3 linked regions of the Homo sapiens genome follow. The protein of the gene in region 1 interacts with the protein of each later gene in a pairwise test. Each region holds a gene or a part of one and is shown on either strand. Other genes may lie near its edges.

What was found. Proteins that work in one complex are often made in the same cells at the same time.
Region 2: the proteins of APOD (region 1) and TMEM45B interact in binary tests that used the Homo sapiens proteins (3 or more experiments, as listed by UniProt).
Region 3: the proteins of APOD (region 1) and GJA8 interact in binary tests that used the Homo sapiens proteins (3 or more experiments, as listed by UniProt).

What each region holds. Positions count from the first base shown.
Region 1 is NC_000003.12:195,568,171-195,573,940, reverse strand, and holds the end of APOD (apolipoprotein D precursor), read left to right. Parts: coding exon 1-91; intron 92-2,575; coding exon 2,576-2,664; intron 2,665-4,805; coding exon 4,806-5,041; 3' UTR 5,042-5,236; downstream 5,237-5,770. UniProt on the Homo sapiens protein: APOD occurs in the macromolecular complex with lecithin-cholesterol acyltransferase. It is probably involved in the transport and binding of bilin. Appears to be able to transport a variety of ligands in a number of different contexts.
Region 2 is NC_000011.10:129,846,814-129,853,847, reverse strand, and holds part of TMEM45B (transmembrane protein 45B), read right to left. Parts: intron 3,299-7,034; exon of another isoform or gene 3,244-3,298; intron 2,187-3,243; exon of another isoform or gene 2,056-2,186; intron 1,374-2,055; 5' UTR 1,366-1,373; coding exon 1,188-1,365; intron 1-1,187.
Region 3 is NC_000001.11:147,898,345-147,905,794, reverse strand, and holds the start of GJA8 (gap junction alpha-8 protein), read right to left. Parts: upstream 3,001-7,450; 5' UTR 2,934-3,000; intron 1-2,933.

The DNA of each region.
Region 1 (5,770 bases):
TCCCAACAACCTTTGAGAATGGACGCTGCATCCAGGCCAACTACTCACTAATGGAAAACGGAAAGATCAAAGTGTTAAACCAGGAGTTGAGGTGAGTGGCTGTGGGCGTCCGGGGCCAGGCCTGCGGAGTGCTGATGCAGAGTGACTGGGTGTCCGGCAGCCTGGGTCAGGGAGGATGGGAACCTTGCTGGATCGGGACTGCCTGCTCCTAGCAGGAATTGAGAGGAAAGCGTTTGGCAGGCAAGGATGGCAAGGACTAGGATCCACTTATGCATTTCCATGACCACCTGCGGGGCACAAACTGACAGGGTTCCTGCACTCACTGCAAAATAGATACTCTGGTAGCAAAGAACATCAAGACCATCTCTTCTGACCTCCAGTCTGGGAGAGAAGCCGCTTCGACACCATCTGCTGACAGAAGCATCCAGCTTTGTTCAAACACTTCCAGGAACTGGGAGCTCATCGCCTTCCAGGACAGTTCATCCCATCTCTGGGCAGCTTAATCTATCAGAAAGCTCCTTTTCTTATTAAGCAAGAATCACATACACAACATTCACACTCTAGGTTATGTAAACAGGATATCCTTTAGAAGTGTACATTTCTATTACTGAGGGCTTCTAACACAATAATTAATCCAAAAAGCTACGCTTTGGAAAGCAACTATAAACTTAAAAAGAGCCCCAGGAAGAGCTCCTTCCTACCCACCTTCCACTCTTGAAAATACAAATGCAGTTTTTCCATGAACATGTTGTGACTTCATGGTCAGAGACTGGTGTCCTGAAAACCGTTCTAGAGCAAAATGCAATTGACGGTGAAAAGGGCAGAATCTGCTGGGAGGAGACTGGTTTGTTGCTAAGTTAACGTATGCAGATAGAAACAGACCATCTTCCCCAGCTGTCTGAGATCCAGATGAGAGAGGAGGGCACGGTCTCCAGCTTTACATGGTGATAAACAGAGAAAGTACTTGGGAACATCAGAGCACAGTTCCCAGAATCCCTGGCCTGTTGCTCATTGTCCTGTTTCTAGGACATCCGTCACCACTAACCATAGCATTAACCTACTGACTTTCTTTTTTTTTTTTAATTGTATTTTAGTAGAGACGGGGTTTCACTGTGTTGGCCAGGCTGGTCTTGATCTCCTGACCTTGTGATCCGCCCCCCCTTGGCCTCCCAAAGTGCTGGGATTACAGGCGTGAGCCACCACGCCCGGCCAACCTACTGACTTTCTAACACATACGACTGCTCTAATTTCAGTTGGCCTCCCTGCTCTGCCTTGAGGATTGATAAACAGACATCCTCTCCTCTGTTGGCTTCCTAGGAAGAGCACCCTGATGCCTTAGCACCCTCCCTTTGGTGCCTCCATCTCCACACCTTTCCCCTTCTCCCAAGTTCATGGGGCCATTGGGAGTCATCTAGAAAGCAGGCTCATTCAAAGAGGTGAAAGTATTGCATCCAATCTAAGCCCCCAGCTTTTAAGACACACCACTGCGTTATATGCCACTAAGAAAGGAATGACACTGCTAATTGTCAGGTGACATCAATTGTGAGATATGCATTTCTTCACATTTAATGTCTCTGAAATCTGGGCATACCTGAGAATCACTGAGATAAAGTAAATGTTTCTTCACTGCCTCCTTTTACTTGGCCTACATTGAAATCCCCCACACTCACTCAGAGGCTTGCTGAACTAGAGGGAGTCTCTGGACTCAGGCCCCTTGATGGGACAGGCGATGTCACATGATATCACTGAGGCCCAAAGAAGGGGAACGCTTTTATGTCTCCTTGTTTTGAATTATTTTCAGTGATCAAGTCCATCCTCATCTGTACCTTTGGCCCTTCTCGTTTTAAAAAGAAGTGAATCTGCCAGGCACGGCGGCTCACGCCTGTAATCCCAGCACTTTGGGAGGCTGAGGCAGGTAGATTGCCTGAGGTCAGGAGTTTGAGACCAGCCTGGCTAACATGGTGAAACCCCGTCTCTACTAAAGATACAAAAAATTAGCCAGGCGTGGTGGTGCATGCCTGTAATCTCAGCTCCTGGGGAGGCTGAGGGAGGAGAATTGCTTGAACCGGGGAGGCAGAGGTTGCAGTAAGCCGAGATCGCACCACTGCACTCCAGCCTGGGGGACAGAGCAAGACTCCATCTCCAAAAAAAAAAAAAAGTGAATCTTCTTTGTGTGTTGGGTTGTTTTGTTTGTTTTTCCATTCTCTTTTCTCCCTTTCTTTGGAGACTGGGAGCAGGAATTGGTCTTTCAGGCCATAGAAGATAGTCAGAGATAGTGTTGAAGTGCAAGGGCCTAACATACTGTCCCATCCTGGAGCTTGTCAATTGCGGCTTCTTATCACCCCGCTGCTCTCTTCCCCTGCTTGGCCTCAGAGACAGTCACAAGGGAAAGGCCAGGCCATGGAGCTAGGGTCTAGCCTGCCTTTGAGAGCCTCTCTTACCAGAAATCACGGTGTTGGCTGCCACGGTCCTTAGTGGCACAAATCTTGCCTTTCGTTGCTTATTGGCTTTCAATGAGTTGTTTTTCTTTTCTCTTTTCGTTTTTTGTATTTTTTCTTTTTTTAACTCACTGCAGAGCTGATGGAACTGTGAATCAAATCGAAGGTGAAGCCACCCCAGTTAACCTCACAGAGCCTGCCAAGCTGGAAGTTAAGTTTTCCTGGTGTAAGTATCCACTTTTCCCAGGAGGATTCAGGGACAGGAAATATGCAAACTGAAGGCTAGCGCCCCGGCTTGGAGAATTCCTGAGACACCTGAGTGTCATCTATAATCACTCAGCACATAATTATCTGTCAAACACTTACTACATGTCACGCACTAGGGTTGCCATGATGAGCCGGACAGAGCTGGCCTTGGTACTTATGGAGCTCACATCCCAGTGTGGATACTGACACGTGACCCCGCAATTTACTATAACTAGCTAGCGTTTCAACAGGTGAAACACAAGTAGGTGCACACCGGGTGTGGGCTGCAGAAGACACAACCCAGTCTTGTTTCCCAAAGGAAACTGGGGCCCGAAACATTAGCAGATATTAGCAGAACAACCTGCACGGCGCAGAAACTAGGAAGCAAGAGATGACAAGAGTGACGGCAAGTTTGAATCCTGCTTCTGCCACTTTCCAGTCACATTGTTGGGGATCCTGTGAGATACCTAATGACAGGCATTTGCCTCTGGGTTCTGAGCTAACTGAGGAAGGGACACAGGCAATAGAGAAAGCACCAAATATTAGTTTTATTTCCGACGAAGATACACTAGAGAGTTCAACCCAGAACTGTGAGGCTTTCTAACACGAAGAGTGCTTGAAAGCCCCTTTCCCACCTGCAGGGTAGACACTGAAGTCATCAGCTACAAAAGTTACTCCCTGCACTTCCTACTTCTCATCTCTGCCACTCCTCCACCCCACACCAGTCAAGTGCCTAGAGCGGGGAGGAGAGGAAGTTCTAATTTTATAGACCAAGAAAGGAATGCTGGGAGGAGAAAACAGTTCTTCTCACACTATGAATATGGACAACTAACTTCACATGTACAAGCCAGAAATAACTGCCCAGTGTCGTGAAAATAAACCAGATACACACGCTCTGTAAACTGTAAAGGGCTTTATACACAGTTTCTCTTGTTATTTTTATCAAGAAGGGAGCTAAAGTGCAGGTGGGCTGAGTGACGCAGGCCATCACTGAACTCATTAGAAGTAGAGTTGGGACCTAAACCTAGGTCTCCAAACTCTCAACTGAGTATTTTTCCCATAGGGATCAGGGACGGGGATTGGAGTGAAAGCTAACTATTACATGCATAACAAGGATTAGATGTTTGCGTTAGGCCTTGTAGGATTATGGGAGATTATGGAAAAGGATTTCCAAGTGAAGGGAACTGGAACATAGAAGAAGGCCTGAATACAGGCATATCACGAAGTCAGGAGTTCAAGACCAGCCTGGCCGACATGGTGAAACCCTGTCTCTACTAAAGATACAAAAAATTAGCTGGGCATGGTGGCGTGTGCCTGTAATCCCAGCTACTCAGGATGCTGAGGCAGGAGAATCGCTTGAACCCAGGAGGTGGAGGTTGCAGTGAGCTGAGATCGCGCCATTGCACTCCAGCCTGGGCGACAAGAGTGAAACTCCATCTCAAAAAAAAAAAAAAAAAAAAAAAAAAAAAACGAAGAAGAAGAAGGCCTGAATAAAGAGGCCTAGAGCCTGGGAGTGTACATGAAGAGGGGCATGAGGTTAGGAAGGGCCTTGAATGCCACATTAAAAGGCTTGAAGTTTCTTCCATAAACAATAGGAGACTGTCAAAGTTTTCAAATAAGGAGAGACATGTGAAGTTTTCTGTATTGTATCTGGGTAAATTTATTCTTCGGAACTGGACCACGAGAGGAAGGCAGAATGTGCCAGCCTGGGTGAGTGCAGGTGGGCCATGATGCCGCTGCTGGCAGAGGTGGGAGACAGATTTTTGCAAAATCACTCTGGGCTTAAGAGTTCTCAGTCCACCTGGGAATACACAGAGCAGCTGAAATGTGCAGATGGGTGATGACTATAACGCTGTCTCTCTCTCTCTCTCTGTCTCTCTCTCTGGGTGAGTGAGGCAGGCAGGCAGGCAGGGCACCAACAGTGCTAGAAAGGGTAAGTCAGAAACACTCAGTCTAGGCTTTCGTCCAAACTTCTTTCCAGGGTCTTTCTGTTTCTGGATTGATAAACAAAATCAGAGGTGGGGGGCTTGGTGGGTGGTTGTCTGGGCCAGCCTTCTTGTGTTGTCCTGAGATTTCTCTTGCCCTCTCCCTCCAATAATGCTGCCTCTCTCTGGTTCTCAGTTATGCCATCGGCACCGTACTGGATCCTGGCCACCGACTATGAGAACTATGCCCTCGTGTATTCCTGTACCTGCATCATCCAACTTTTTCACGTGGATTTTGCTTGGATCTTGGCAAGAAACCCTAATCTCCCTCCAGAAACAGTGGACTCTCTAAAAAATATCCTGACTTCTAATAACATTGATGTCAAGAAAATGACGGTCACAGACCAGGTGAACTGCCCCAAGCTCTCGTAACCAGGTTCTACAGGGAGGCTGCACCCACTCCATGTTACTTCTGCTTCGCTTTCCCCTACCCCCCCCCCATAAAGACAAACCAATCAACCACGACAAAGGAAGTTGACCTGAACATGTAACCATGCCCTACCCTGTTACCTTGCTAGCTGCAAAATAAACTTGTTGCTGACCTGCTGTGCTCGCAGTAGATTCCAAGTTGGATTAATTATTGTGGGTTTTTCATTATAAGCTTATGCTTAGAAATCCTTAAACAGGCTGGTTGTGGTGCCTCATGCCTGTAATCCCAGCACTTTGGGAGGCTGAGGCAGGAGGATCACCTGAGGCCGGGAGTTCAAGACCAGTCTGGGCAACATAGCAAGACCTCATCTCTACAAAAATGTTTTTAAAATTAGCTGGGTATGGTGGTGCACACCCGTGCTAGCTACTCAGGAGGTGGTGGCAGGAGGATGACTTGAGCCCAAGAATTCGAGGGTACAGTGAGCTATGATGGCACCACTGCACTCCAGCCTGGGCAACAGAGCAAGACCCTGCCTCTAAAAAGAAAAACAGAAAAAAAAATCCTTAAGCAGTTATGTTGAAAAAAACCAAGCACTGAATTGTCCTCATTTAAAGGTAACAATCCTGTTTCTGGAGTGGGGGAAGCTGATGGCAAAGGCGTATTCTGGGTGACCTGAATCCAGATGCCCCCGTTCTGGAGTAGATGCTGCTTTCAGGGTGAATTACTTGGGC
Region 2 (7,034 bases), on another chromosome or scaffold:
GATGACATTTTGGACTCCGTTTCCCAGATACTTGTTTCTCAAGCCAGACCCTTTTTGAATTCCCACACACAGAGTCAGGAAGTTGTGGAAATGACCCAGGAAAAGTCCCAGTGACACTAGAATGGAAGCCCTGTGACAGCAGCGGCTGTGTGGTTCCCCAGTGTATCTCCTATGCCTGGAACAGTGACTTCCTGGCTTGTGGTAGGAGTGCCAGAGAGCTGTTGAATGAGTACCATTTTCACCCAGTCAAGGGGCCAAATATTGTAATTGTCCTAGCTTTATTTAGGCAAGGTTGATGCTGTCCTGATCCTTTAAGCCACAGGTCCCTGTCACTTCTCACGGGAGGCCTCTCTGATGCCTGAATGGTGAGTGGGGACATTCAGCAGGATGAGACCAACAAAGCCCTGTGAAGCTTTGCTTCCTCCAAGAGAAGCGATGTTGCTTCACTCTCTCCAAGAAGCCATAGGCCACTGATGACAAGTGGTAATTGTCAGTTGCAGATTAAGACCCCTCATTCCCCCCAGGTGGGGCTGGTCCTGAGGAAGAACACTTGTTACTGTCATCACTGCTTGTTCCTGGAGGGCCGCAGTGGAGCGGAGTGGATGCGAAGGAAACAGTGGGAGTGGGTGGATCTTGTTGGAATGGGGCAGAGTGAAGGAAAATTCCTCTTCAACAGCCCTCTGCTGCTTTTTCTCTCCCACTGGCTAATTTACGAATCTACATAAACTCTCTATAAGCGCTTGAGACTTGAGGATGAAGATAAGCCAGTGGGTTGGGTGTTAACTACTGTAAGGATCTGGAGGGAGAGACAATTGAGGAAAAAAGGTGATTTTTCTACTTTGTCACAACTAAGGTACGTGAGCCTAATCTATTTTGTTTTTTTCTCTTTTTATTTGTGTCATATCTTTTTCATACAGTGGGTGTTTTGCTCCTACAACTTTCCATACCTGTGTCCTTGTTGATTTGAGTTTTTCACAGTGTCCCATGATGTGAGAGCTGTCAACCGTTAGTATTATAAAGCTCTGTACACAATGGATGTTACGATAAAATAGTCTAGTGGCCATCAGGAAATTGTTGCCCTATTATCTCTGCCAGTGGGAACATCTATTTCACAGGGCTCAGAAAATGAATTAAAGGTTCTGGGTATGATGAGGAGATTCCCTAGACCAAATGACCCCTGCTCTTACCAGTGACGGAAAACAAAGTCCTAATTGCGGCTTCGACGATCTCGAGACGCTGATAGTAATGTAGTGGGCTGTTCTTCCGCGTGTGGCTAAAGTACTTCAGCGGGTACTTCACTGACCAACACAGCCCAATGATCAGGAAGAAACTCCCTGGAAGCGCGTGGCCCTTGAAATTTGCCATCAGGACACCTAAAAAATTAGGGGAAGGCTGTTAGGTGGCTAATGAAGCAAGCAAACAAATGTATATTTTGGCAGGAAACACAATACGTGCCTGAGATTGCAAATCATAAGCCACGTTAAGAAGGATCAACACATTCTCATAAAACAAGCCTTATGTTACGTCACTGAAGTCTCATCTGTAAAGTGAGTTGCATAACCAACTGGACTCCACTGTCTGTAATGCTTTAAACATGTGGGTAAAATAAAAGGATGAGGGTGGGGAAAGAGGAGGATAGGTAATATTTATTGATCTCAGATAGAGAAAACTTCCAAGCCATAAACATAAAGGGGGGAACTAGAAAAGAAAAACGTTCAGCTATATAAGCATCTTTTAATATCAAGAACATCAAAAGGTAAACAACAAATCAGAAACATGCTTGTAGCAGTTGGCTATTACATTAGAGTCTTTACAAATTGATAAGAAAAAGACCGTAGAAGAATAGGCAGAAGACATGAACGGATGATTCACAAAATAATACAAACAAATTATAAATCTCCCGGAAATTAGAGATGGGCAAACGAAAGCACAACATCATTTTTCACCCAACTGGAAAATAATTTTATAAAGTTTTGGTGTGGTGGTCTAGTACAAATGAACCTGGTCAATATGATTCACAGTTTGTAAAAATCAGCATAACGATGTAAACATCACCTTATTCCAAAAATTTTCAGGCATGATTTGCTGTTATCCCATTTGCAGTAGCATGAAACTATAGCTAGGATTTATTCAGAAGTAGATTGATTATTTTCCCCACTGGCCTGGGTGGTTACCTAAAGAATATGTAGGGTGGGAGAAAAATACCAGTTGTTGGTGATTGCTGTGGTTTGAATGTGTCCCCTCCAAAATCCAGGTGTTGCCAAGGTGATAGCATTAAGAGAAGGGGACTTTTTTTTTTTTTTTGAGGCAGAGTTTCACTCTGTCACCCAGGCTGGAGTGCAGTGGCACGATCTTGGCTCACTACAACCTCTGCCTCCCAGGTTCAAGCGATTCTCCTGCCTCAGCCTCCCGAGTAGCTGGAATTACAGGCACCCGCCACCACGCCTGGCTAATTTTTATATTTTTAGTAGAGACGGGGTTTCACCATGTTGGCCAGGCTTTTCTCGAACTCCTGACCTTAGGTGATCTGCCCACCTCGGCCTCCCAAAGTGCTGGGATTACAGGTGTGAGCCACCACACCCGGCCGAGAAGAGGACTTTTAAGAAGGGACTAGGCCATGAGGGCCCCTCCCTCCTGAACTAGGAGCAGATGCCCTCCCTCATACAGGGGTTGGCTGGAGGGAGCTGGTCCCCTGTTTGTCCTCCTGCATGTGAGGATGCAGCCCTCAGCAGACACCAGATGCTGCTGCCTTGATCTTGGACTTCCCAGCTTTCAGAACAGTGAGAAATAAATTGTTGTTCTTTATAAATTACCCAGTCTGCGTATTGTGTGATATCAGCACAACAGGGACTAAGACAGAAATTGGTACCAGAGGAGTTTATAACATTTATAACCAGGGGTTATAACAAATATGTAAAAATGTGGGGGTGGCTTTGGAACTGGATAATGAATACAAGCTGGAACAGCTTTGAAGTGAGTGCTGAAAAAAGCCTGGATTGCCATGAACGGAGCACTAAGGATGATTCTGGTGAGGGCTCAGAAGAAGAGGAGAGCTGTAGATGTGGGATATGAGCTGTGGGGAAAGCCTCGTTCTTAGAGATTGCCTAAGTGGTCATGAACAGAATGTTGATAGAGATACCGATGGTGAAGGCAATTCTGATGAGGTCTCAGACAGAAATAAAGAACAAGGTATTGGAAACTAGAAGAAAGGTTATCCTTGTTAGAAAGTGGTAAAGAACTTACCTGAATTATGTCGTTTCCTAGGACTTCATGGAGGGCAGAACTTAAGAATGATGACCTAGGATATTTGGCAGAAGAGATAGAAAGCAAAGTGTTCAGGATGCTGTGTGGCTTCTCTTAACTGCTTATAGAAAAACATGAGAGGCCAGGTGCGGTGGCTCACGCCTGTAATCCCAGCACTTTGGGAGGGCGAGGCAGGCAGATCACCTGAGGTCAGGAGTTCGAGATAAGCCTGACAAACATGGTGAAACCCTGTCTCTACTAAACATAAAAAAATTAGCCGGGCGCGGTGGCAGGAGCCTGTAGTCCCAGCTACTCGGGAGACTGAGGCAGGAGAATCGCTTGAACCCGGGAGAGGGAGGTTGCAGTGAGCCGAGATCGCGCCATTGCACTCCAGCCTGGGTGACAAAAGCAAAACTCCATCTCAAAAACAACAACAACATCAACAAAAAAAAAAACGTGAGAAAAGAGAAATAATTTGAAGGCAGAATTTACCATCAAAAGGAAAGCTAAAGGTCAATATCTGAAAAATTCTCAGCCTAGCCATGAAAAAGAGAAAAACGTGTGTGTAGGAGAGAAAACCACGGGTATGGCCACAGGACTGATAAGCAGGTTAGTATGTGTAGAAGGAAGCCAGGTGCTAGTTATCAAGAGAACGGGAAAATGACCCCAAAGTCATTTCGGAAAATGACTCCAAAGCCATTTCGGAGAATGACCCCAAAGGCATTTGGGGCTGCCTTGCTCATTAGAGGCCCAGAGGGTTAGAGCCTTGCGGCAGAACAGTTTCAGGGGAAGGGCCCAGGCGCCTGCGGGGTCTCAGAGATCACTGCCTAGGGCCACCTCAGGTCTCTGCTCCCCACATTTCCAGCAGAGCATTCCTCCGTCACCCTAGCTGTGGCTCAAGCAGGACCAGGTGCAGGTTGGGCCACTGCTCCAGAGGGCGCAAGTTATAAATCTTGGTGGCATCCATGTGGTGCTGACTCTGTAGGTATGCATACTGTATGAGCTGTGGGAGCACGGCCGCCTCCACCTCGATGGAAAGGATTTCTTTGACCTCAGGGCCCGAGCAGAGATTTGTCACCGGGGTGGAGCCACTGCAGAGAGCCCCCAGTAGGCCAATACTTAGGGAAGCCTTGGAGGTGGTATCACCTGGAGCCTTGGGGGCCCAACACCCACCCCAGTGTGTTCAGAAGGTGAGATATGGAGTCAGATAATATTATTCTCAAGCCTAAGATCTAATGTTGAGTTTTGGACTCACTTGAGACCTGTTGTTACTCCTTTCTTCCTTCCTGTTTCTCCCTTTTGGACTAGAAACATCTGTCCTGTGCCTGTCACGCCATTGTATTTGAATCAAAGTACGCAACTCATTTGAATTCACAGGCTCACAGCTGGAGAGAAATTTGCCTCAGGATGAAATTTATCTCAAAGTGAATGAGTCTCTCTCACACCTGACTTAGATAAGATTCTGGACTTAGATTTTAAAGTTCATGTTGGAATGATTTAAGGCTTTTGAGGGCAATTGTGGTGGAATGAATGTATTTTGTTTGTGAGAAGTACGTGAATTCTGGGGGGCCAGGATTGGAATGCTATGGTGTGAATGGGTCCCCTCCAAAATTCAGGTGTTGCCGGTGTGATAGTATTAGATGTGGGGCCTTTAAGAGCTGATTAAGCCATGAAGGTTCCTCCCTTGTGGATGGGATTAAGCACCCTTATAAAGGGCTGAATGGAGGGAGTTGCTTCCCTTTTTTGCCCTTTCTGCCATGTGAGGCTACAGCCTTCAACAGACACCACATACCAGTGCCTTGATATTGGACCTCCAAACCTTCAGAACTGTGAGAAATAAATTTGTTCTTTATAAGTTACCCAGTCTGTGGTATTTTGTTGTAGCAGCACAAGCAGACTGAGACAGTGATCTAGAAAAGACCACCCCGGAATGTAAAGCATTCCTGGTCTGCACAGCATATTCCAACCCTGGACACAGGCCCGTCCCTCTAGCACCAGCTACATTGTCAGGGCTGTTTCACATCTTACACATTGACAGATGAGGGTCCCACCCATCATCAAGAACTTCATAAGCCCTCTCCCTCTCCCTCTCCCTCTCTTTCCACGGTCTCCCTTTCATGCCGAGCCGAAGCTGGACTGTGCTGCTGCCATCTCGGCTCACTGCAACCTCCCTGCCTGATTCTCCTGCCTCAGCCTGCCGAGTGCCTGGGATTGCAGGCCCGCGCCGCCACGCCTGACGGGTTTTCGTATTTTTTTGGTGGAGACGGGGTTTCGCTGTGTTGGCCGGGCTGGTCTCCAGCTCCTAACCGCGAGTGATCCGCCAGCCTCGGCCTCCCGAGGTGCCGGGATTGCAGACGGAGTCTCGTTCACTCAGTGCTCAATGGTGCCCAGGCCGGAGTGCAGTGGCGTGATCTCGGCTACAACCTCCACCTCCCAGCTGCCTGCCTTGGCCTCCCAAAGTGCCGAGATTGCAGCCTCTGCCCGGCCGCCACCCCGTCTGGGAAGTGAGGAGTGTCTCTGCCTGGCCGCCCATCGTCTGGGATGTGAGGAGCCCCTCTGCCTGGCTGCCCAGTCTGGAAAGTGAGGAGCGTCTCTGCCCGGCCGCCATCCCATCTAGGAAGTGAGGAGCGTCTCTGCCCGGCCGCCCCTACTGGGAAGTGAGGAGCCCCTCTGCCCGGCCACCACCACCCCATCTGGGAGGTGTACCCAACAGCTCATTGAGAACGGGCCATGATGACAATGGCGGTTTTGTGGAATAGAAAAGGGGGAAAGGTGGGGAAAAGATTGAGAAATCGGATGGTTGCTGTGTCTGTGTAGAAAGAAGTAGACATGGGAGACTTTTCATTTTGTTCTGTACTAAGAAAAATTGTGCCTTGGGATCCTGTTGATCTATGACCTTACCCCCAACCCTGTGCTCTCTGAAACATGTGCTGTGTCCACTCAGGGTTAAATGGATTAAGGGCGGTGCAAGATGTGCTTTGTTAAACAGATGCTTGAAGGCAGCATGCTCGTTAAGAGTCATCACCACTCCCTAATCTCAAGTACCCAGGGACACACACACTCTGCCTAGGAAAACCAGAGACCTTTGTTCACTTGTTTATCTGCTGACCTTCCCTCCACTATTGTCCTGTGACCCTGCCAAATCCCCCTCTGCGAGAAACACCCAAGAATGATCAATAAAAAAAAATAAAAAAAAATAACTTCATAAGCTTTTAAAAAAATGCTTACAGTTTTCAGAAAATCAACTCGTATGAAAGACTTATAGTGAAAAGCAACAGCCTCATGTTCTGTCCCTCCTCACCCCCAGCAAAGCCACTTTCAACCCTTTCAGCTGTTTCCTCCGGTATTTACCTCCACCATTGTAGTTAATGGGTGGGTGCAAACGTAATGGCAAAAACCACAATTACTTTTGCACCAACCTAATGCTTTGTGCATGTGGTCATTTGTTAATCCATCATTGTCAGGCATCACCTACCAACTTCCTGGAGCTCTCTCACAGCCTCTCCCTCTTCCCCACCCTGCTATTTTCATAGCAGTTGCATTATACTCGTTTGTTGAAATCATTAGTTTCATTATCATGGCTCTGTAAATCCAAAGTCCTTACCAGGGCCAATAAGGCCATATACGATCCTGAGCCATCTCTTTGATTTCTCCCAGCACTCATCCCCTGCCACACTGGATCCCTTCCATTCCCTTAAATGGCTGAGAACACTCCATTCCTGCTTCAGGACATTGCACTGTCTGTGGCTTCTAGAACAGTGTTCCCACAGGCAGCCAACAGTTGTCTCCTT
Region 3 (7,450 bases), on another chromosome or scaffold:
GAATCGGAACCAGCAACTCAATCCCAGCCACATGTATCTATTTTTAACTCTTCAGACTATAGTTAAGTCTAGTAATTGCCCTGGTAAGAGTGGTAGCCATTCCCATTGCCTTTTGGAAAATAGGTGGGAAACATCACAATCAGGTAAGCAGCCCAAGCATAAAGCTCACTGGTGGCAGAGCCAGGAAAAAGTTCATTTCTTATCAAATAGTTCATTCTAAAATTTATGTTAAAACAGCAATTTGAATAACTGTACTTCTATAAGATTTAGCTAATATCTTACTATCTTACTAATATCTTACTGAATCTTAACTATCTTGCTAATACTTACCCTCATTGATATATCAGTTCATTTTTGACAGTGTATTTCACTCACATACCCACATGAATGTGTGTGATGAGCACATGCTCTCAGTCCTGTATGTTAACCAATCTTGTTTTCCCCCCTTTAGTATCAAAAGGTTTTGGAGGGCAGGAACCATTTTGGCCTCATCTTTTGTGAACCATCACAACACAGAACAAAGCCCTTCACAGAGTGGGAGCTCCATAGACAGCAGTGCATGGTTCTAATAGTAATCCTTGTGAAATCTGAAATTCTCAATCCCCAAATTCCTGTAATATGAATACTAGAGACCAAGGAACTTCAGTCCTCTTGCTACAGCTAACAGCAGAAAAATTAAGAACTTGTAAAAAATGGTAAATAACAAAAAGGATAGTAAATTGATCCCCAACCAGCTGCTCTGAGACACAAAACTGCTTATTTTGTATGAGATCAAATATATAAACTGGAAGGCCAACAATTCTTGACAAGAGTGTCATGATACATGTTCATGACACAAGAAGTCGTTCCTGACCACTCATTAGTAATTTTGAAACCAAAGCCAAACAAGCCCATGTCTTTCTATACTCTAAGCCGCCATGCTAAGATTGTATTTTTTTTTAAATGTCTAGTTACAGTTTCTTGTGATAACTGAAGGAGAGAAACTGTAATTTAGGACACAATCTTTCCAACCCCATGATGTTGAAACAGGCCTACTGTGCTGTTAAGGAGAGACACTTTAGAGCTGCGAAGGGAAATGTATTGGTTTCCTGACTTCTAACAGTGAAAATTTAAAGGAAGTCAGATCAGAGAAGCAAAGCGTTCTGTGGGAGCAGGGAGAAATCTGAACCAAAGGAAGACTATTTCTCTTCTCTTTCTCAGAGATAATTCTCTGTTTTATTTTGCTTGTGAAAATTTAGTGAACAGACCTATTACAGATGGAAAATAAATGGATAGAGTTCAAGCCTCCAACCCCAGGGTGTCCATATATGGCCAGGAACATCCCACCAGAAAATGATGGCTAGAGGTAATGATTAAAATAACACCTTATGTTTGGGTATCCTTGATCTAAGTGATACATTTTCACGTATCTTATTTCAGTCCTCATAACAAGCTGTGAACTAGGCCAGTGGTTCTCAGACTTAGATTTCACAGACTAGTATAATAATAACAAACTAGTGTGACCAACATAAGGATACCAACTCCTTATTTTGCCAAACAAGGACATAAAAATAAGAGTTATTGGCTGGGCGTGGTGACTCATGCCTGTAATCCCAGCACTATGGGAGGCCGAGGTGGGAGGATCACTTGAGGTCAGGAGTTCAAGATCAGCCTGGCCAACAGGGTGAAACCCTATCTCTACTAAAAATACAAAAATTAGCTGGGCACGGTGGTGGGGCACCTGTAATCCCAGCTACTTGGGAGGCTGGGGCAGGAGAATTGCTTGAGCCCAGGAGGTGGAGGCTGCAGTGAGCTGAGATCACACCACTGCACTCCAGCCTGGGCAACACAGCGAGACTCTGTCTCAAAAAAAAAAAAAAAGAGTTATTAAATTACTAACTACAACTACAGTCTATTTTCATCATCATTTCATAAAAGGGGATTTTAACACCACAAAACTGGAGAGGACATAACTTCAGAATAAAAGACAAGCCTTTAAATTGAACACACTTAACTTGGTGAAACATTTACTACATTGTTAACTTTATCATTGTCACATTTTGGTCACAGGTTGTGGAAACCTTCATCTTGAGCTAGAACTGACAGATCCCCAGATGGATGTCTGAGAACCAGTGAACTTGGCATTATCAATCCCCATTACCAGACAAAAAGACAGGCTGGGAGGTGAAATGAGTCTCCAAGATGGGGGCTTAGCTAGTGAGGGCAGAGCTAGGCTGTGAGCCCTGGTCTTCTAGATCTAAGCCCATTACAGCATAGCCCTCCTCTGGTTTTGAAGAGGCAGAATAACACATATACATCCATTAATAAGTTATCCAAAGCGTTCAATGGCCACTTACCACTCTGGTTGGTAACCAGGTGGAAAGTGCCTCTTTTCTAGTTTCTAGAACAGCCACTAGCCAGCAGTTCTCATAGATAGACAACAGAACCTGCTCCTAGGAGGAATTTTATGGTCCTTAGCCAGATCCCTTCCTGTGCTCCATTAAATGCTCCAACATGGAAAATGCTGAGCACGAAGCCTCCGCTACCCCCACAGCATTCAGTAATTATGACTATTATTTCTATTGTAGAATTTGAGTGAAAAGGGCACAAAACTTTTTCATAAATATCAAATACTTGGTTTAGGTCCCTGTGGATTCCTGTAGACATGAAAAGAGCTTAAGAAGTCAAATTGTAGTTTGAGTTTGGACATCTCTGTTTCCCCATCCTGCTGATTATTCCAGCATTCCTCTCCCTTCCAAACCTCTGCCAGTTCTTAGGTCAACTTGAAGAGGGTTTTCAGAGTTGGAGTGTAAGTCTAGCCATCCCAGCCCAAGACTGAATCTTATTGGCAACCTTTTTCCTTTTGGAGAAGCCTATATATGGCCCTTAGATTAGGCTGAGAAAGAACAATTGGGGGGAAGGTTACAAACTAATATCACCCAAGGAAAACTTGCCAATACAAGGAGTGTCCCACGGAGAAATATGTGCTCTTTCTCTCTTGGCGCTCAGCAGCAAAATGGCAACTTTCGTCTCTTTCCTTTGCTGCCTAAAAGCCCACCTCCCACTTCTCTACCCCGCCCCTACTGTGCTGCACGACTGAGCAGATATGACTGGATTGGCCCTGATGGGTAGGTTTTACTGTCCAGCAATATTTTAAGCTCCCAGCCAGACAGCTTTTATGAAGGGAGGGATGTTTGGGAAACAATGGGAGTGAGAGAATGGGAGAGCTGTGTTGGGCACTGAGGGGAGGAGGATGGGGAAAGCTGATGTGTGAAAGCTTAGCTGGGGCTTCTGTGCCTCCCAAAGTTTCTTTTAGCAGCAGACTGGGCCTGTACATCAGTAAACCTTTGGCGTCTCTCCAGAGCGCATGAGCCTAGGGGCATTTTCCCAAGGCCTTATCATCAGCTGGGAGAATCTTAATGATGTAGGGACAGTAAGTGGTCAGTTGTGTGAATCCCTCTGCCCTGAGTCACACCAAGAGTGGTTGGTCCTTTCCAAAGGACCATATTTCATTTTTTATTGGTGGTTTGCTCTTGTCTCTCAAAGCCTTCAGCAGAATTGTGGATATTAGAGGCTGGGAAGTGTAGTGGCGGAAGGAAGGATGGGGAGCATGTTGCTAATAGATACAAAAGCACAGCTAGATAGGGGGAATGGGTTCTGGTGGTCTGCAGTGCTGTAGGGTGAATATGGTTAACATTAATTAATTAATTATTTTAATTTTTATATTTTTGTGTGTGTGTGAGACAGAGTCTCGCTCTGCCACCCAGGCTGGAGTGCAATGTCACGATCTTAGCTCACTGCAACCTCTGCCTCTCAGGTTCAAGTTATTCTCCTGCCTCAGCCTCCTGAGTAGCTGGGATAACAGACACCCACAACCACGCCCAGCTAATTTTTTTTTTTCTATTTTTAGTAGAGACGGGGTTTCACCATGTTGGCCAGGCTGGCCTCAGACTCCTGACCTCAGGCGATCTGCCCGCCTTGGCCTCCCCAAATGCTGGGATTACAAGCATGAGCGACCATGCCTGGCCGTTAACTATTTTATTGTATAGTCTCAAAAAGCTAGAGGAGAGGATTTTGATTGTTCCCAACAGAAAGAAATGATAAATGTTTGAGATGCTGAATATGCTAATTATCCTGATTTGATCATTACACATTGTATACATGTATTGAAATATCACTGTGTATCACAAATACGTACAATTATTATGTGTCAACTAAACATAAAAGGAAAGAGCTTTCTAAAAAGATCAAAACAATAAAAAAGAAACACAAACAAACCTTCAGCAGGGTGGTCTCCCTCTTTGAAAGGAGCCTTAACACTCCAAAGAATTCTGGTGCCATTTGTCAAAGTAATAGCCTTTCTCACCACGTTTCACTTATAATTACATATACTTTTGAGTAGCGGAAGTTCAATCAATGTCAGCTAACATTTTTAGACTTTAGTGCCTTCATCTGTTAAATGGGGATATGATGGTTTTGCTCACCAGGAGGCTCTTGGATTAAATTCTAATGTGGCTTAATGAGGAATGATGCTTGGAGGGCATGGACATATGCTCTCTGAGGCCCACTCCCGTCCCATCATCTGGGACTGACTATTGGTAGTATAAAAAATGGTTATTTTGACTACATTTCCAAACCAAAAATAGGGGCATTTTATCCTACAAGTTTATTCGTGAAAACAATGGAGCAAAAATAGTTGAAACTTAGATTGTTTTATGAAATCTGCAATGTATGATTACTAAATTGAAGACAACTTGGAGGGCAAACTAGACAAAAAAAATCTAAGCACTGGCTTCACCACCCCACCCCCCCTTCCTGTCCTTTCTGGTGTCATGGACATATTGCATTTTGATGGGGGCAGTTTGAAGGAGGATGGTACCAATGTTGTGTGAGTCCCCAATTCCATTTTAAATAAAATGGTCACTAGCCCAAAACCTTGTTTACTTTAGATGTCTGATTTCTTTTGAACTCCCAAGTTTGAGGGCCCACACTGACTGGGACAATGCCCTATAGCAAATCCTTCAGTTAAAAATAGATGGTCAAGGCTGATCCCTGCAATATCAATAAGGTAAGAAGTCAGAGGATGAGGGGAAAAAATCCAATCATTCTTTCTTTGGGAATATTCAGTACATGCTGATTCCTGAAGCTTGCGCTCTCCCTGATATAGTCCTATGAAGAGAAAAGAATCTACAAAGCTTCTCTTTAAAATGAAGTTCTCCCTATCCAAGGCTTCCCAGTCCAACTTGGCTAATGTAGTGGGTGGTGTCATCGCTCATCATCATTTTGTGAGAGATGGTAGTAGAGGATGCATTTGAATCCAGAAAAACGGGGCTGTCAACAAGGCTCTGAACCAGTTATAGTCTCTCGGATTTAGACAAATCTAGCTTTTCAATTTAGCACTTTCTTTGTTTTCTTACGCTGTTAACAAAGAAGATACTCCTCTACTCGTAGTACCCAATTGATTAAGTTATCTTTGTTATTGGTTCTTCTGTTTGTAGCTGGGAAGTCCTTGAAAATATAAACACTCAGTCGTGTATATCTTGGGGAAAGTTTTGAAAGAGATCGGGAAAGAGGCTCACCTTAGCTACCATTGAGAGATGACTTGTCTATTCCTACCAAGAATCACTTTCTCAGGTCTTTCAGAGGGATGTCTTCCCAGGGTGTCTGTATTGCATTATTTGAGATAAATAAGTAAATGTCTAGAATAGGAGACATAACCACATTCAAATGTAAGTTCCAATTTTATATTCTGTAATCTTATAGATTATTAGATTATTGACATTTTGGATAATCTAATGGTGGCATTCTCCTACCAGGGTTCGTTTTTCCTTTCTTTCTTTCTTTCTTTCTTTCTTTCTTTCTTTCTTTCTTTCTTTCTTTCTTTCTTTCTCTTTCTTTCTTTCTTTCTTTCTCTTTCTTTCTCTCTCTCTTCCTTTCTTTCTTTCCTTTCTTTCTCTCTCTCTCTTTTTCTTTCTTTTCTATTTTGAGACAAGGTCTTGCTTTGTCACCCAGGCTGGAGTGCAGTGGCCTGATATTGGCACACTGCAACCTCCACCTCTGGGCTCAAGCAATCCTCCCACCTCAGCCCCCCAAGTAGCTGGTACTACAGGCGCAGGCCACCACACCCAGCTAATTTTTGTATTTTTTGTAGAGATGGGGTTTTGCCGTATTGCCCAGGCTGGTCTCGAGCTCCTGAGCTCAAGCAATCTGCCTGCCTCAGCCTCCCAAAGTGCTGGGACTACGGGCATGAGCCACTGCACCTGGCCCAGGGTGCATTTCAAAAGCAATGAGGCAGTTCTTTGTGGAAAGTCTGTGGAATTTGCCATTGGAAGACCTGGCTTTGAGTGTGGCTCTTCTGCTTCCTGTGTGCGGGTGGCTTGTTTAGCCTTTCTGAGCCTCAGTTTTCTCATCTGTGAAATAGAGATAATAATCACTGCCTTTTTTGCTTTGTGAAAACAGATGGTGGCTGCTAATCTAACCTATGTGATGCTGTGAATGCCTGTTCACTTGTTGGTTATATTTGCTATGATCTGAGTGTGGCTATGTCCTGTGCCCCAGGGCCATGGGTTGGTTTGTTTCTAAGTACGTTTTGACCAAGGTTACGCACTCCCCCACTTCCACAGGGAAAATGTCAGAACTGGGAAAGACTGGAGGAGATCATTGGTCCCAGCCCTTATTTTATAGATGAGGAAACCAAGGCTAGAGTTGAAATGACACCCTAAGGTTGTGGCATAGCTCTCAAGCCCATGTGTTTTCCATGGCTCCGGGTGCCTCCAGTTATGGGACACAGACTCAATATGCAGAGAGTCTCTTTAGGGAGAACCAGGTGAGCCCTGGCCTGAGGAGAAGGGCAGAAAGATTTATGGGGCCCAAGAGGACCATCCTCAGTCAATCCCTCTGGTGACTGGAATTGGGAGATGTAGAATCTCTCTTCCAGTTACTGGGAAGTGCCAGGGGGAACGAGTCTCTGAGAAACATAGGACGGGGGGCTGTGGGAGAATCCGGTCACTTCTCTGAGTATTTCAAGCCCAGCTCTGACTTAGTGGGCAATGTTTAGAGATTCATTCAATAAGTAGTTGTTGAGCTCCCACCCTTTAAGGTGTGTGGGACACTTTGGTAAGACAAAGATTCCTAGTGGGGAGGTGGAGAATAGGCATTAAACACAATGAATGAGTGAATTATACAGAACATTTGAAGGTAGTAAGTACCAGAAATGAGAACATATGGCAGGGTGAGGGGGATTGGGATTGCTGGTGGAGGGGAGGTGGTGCCCAAAGAGACCTCACTGAGGTGAGATTTGAGCAATTTTTCAAGAAGGTGAGAGAATCGTGAGGGCATGGGGGCGAAGCTTGAGGCAGCAAGGAAGCCAGAGGGGCTGTGGTAGAGTGGGCAAGGACAAACATAATTGGGAAATGTAATTTTAATCTGTTGGTTGTTCATCTATGTATTGTTTGTTCACCTGCATGTCTTC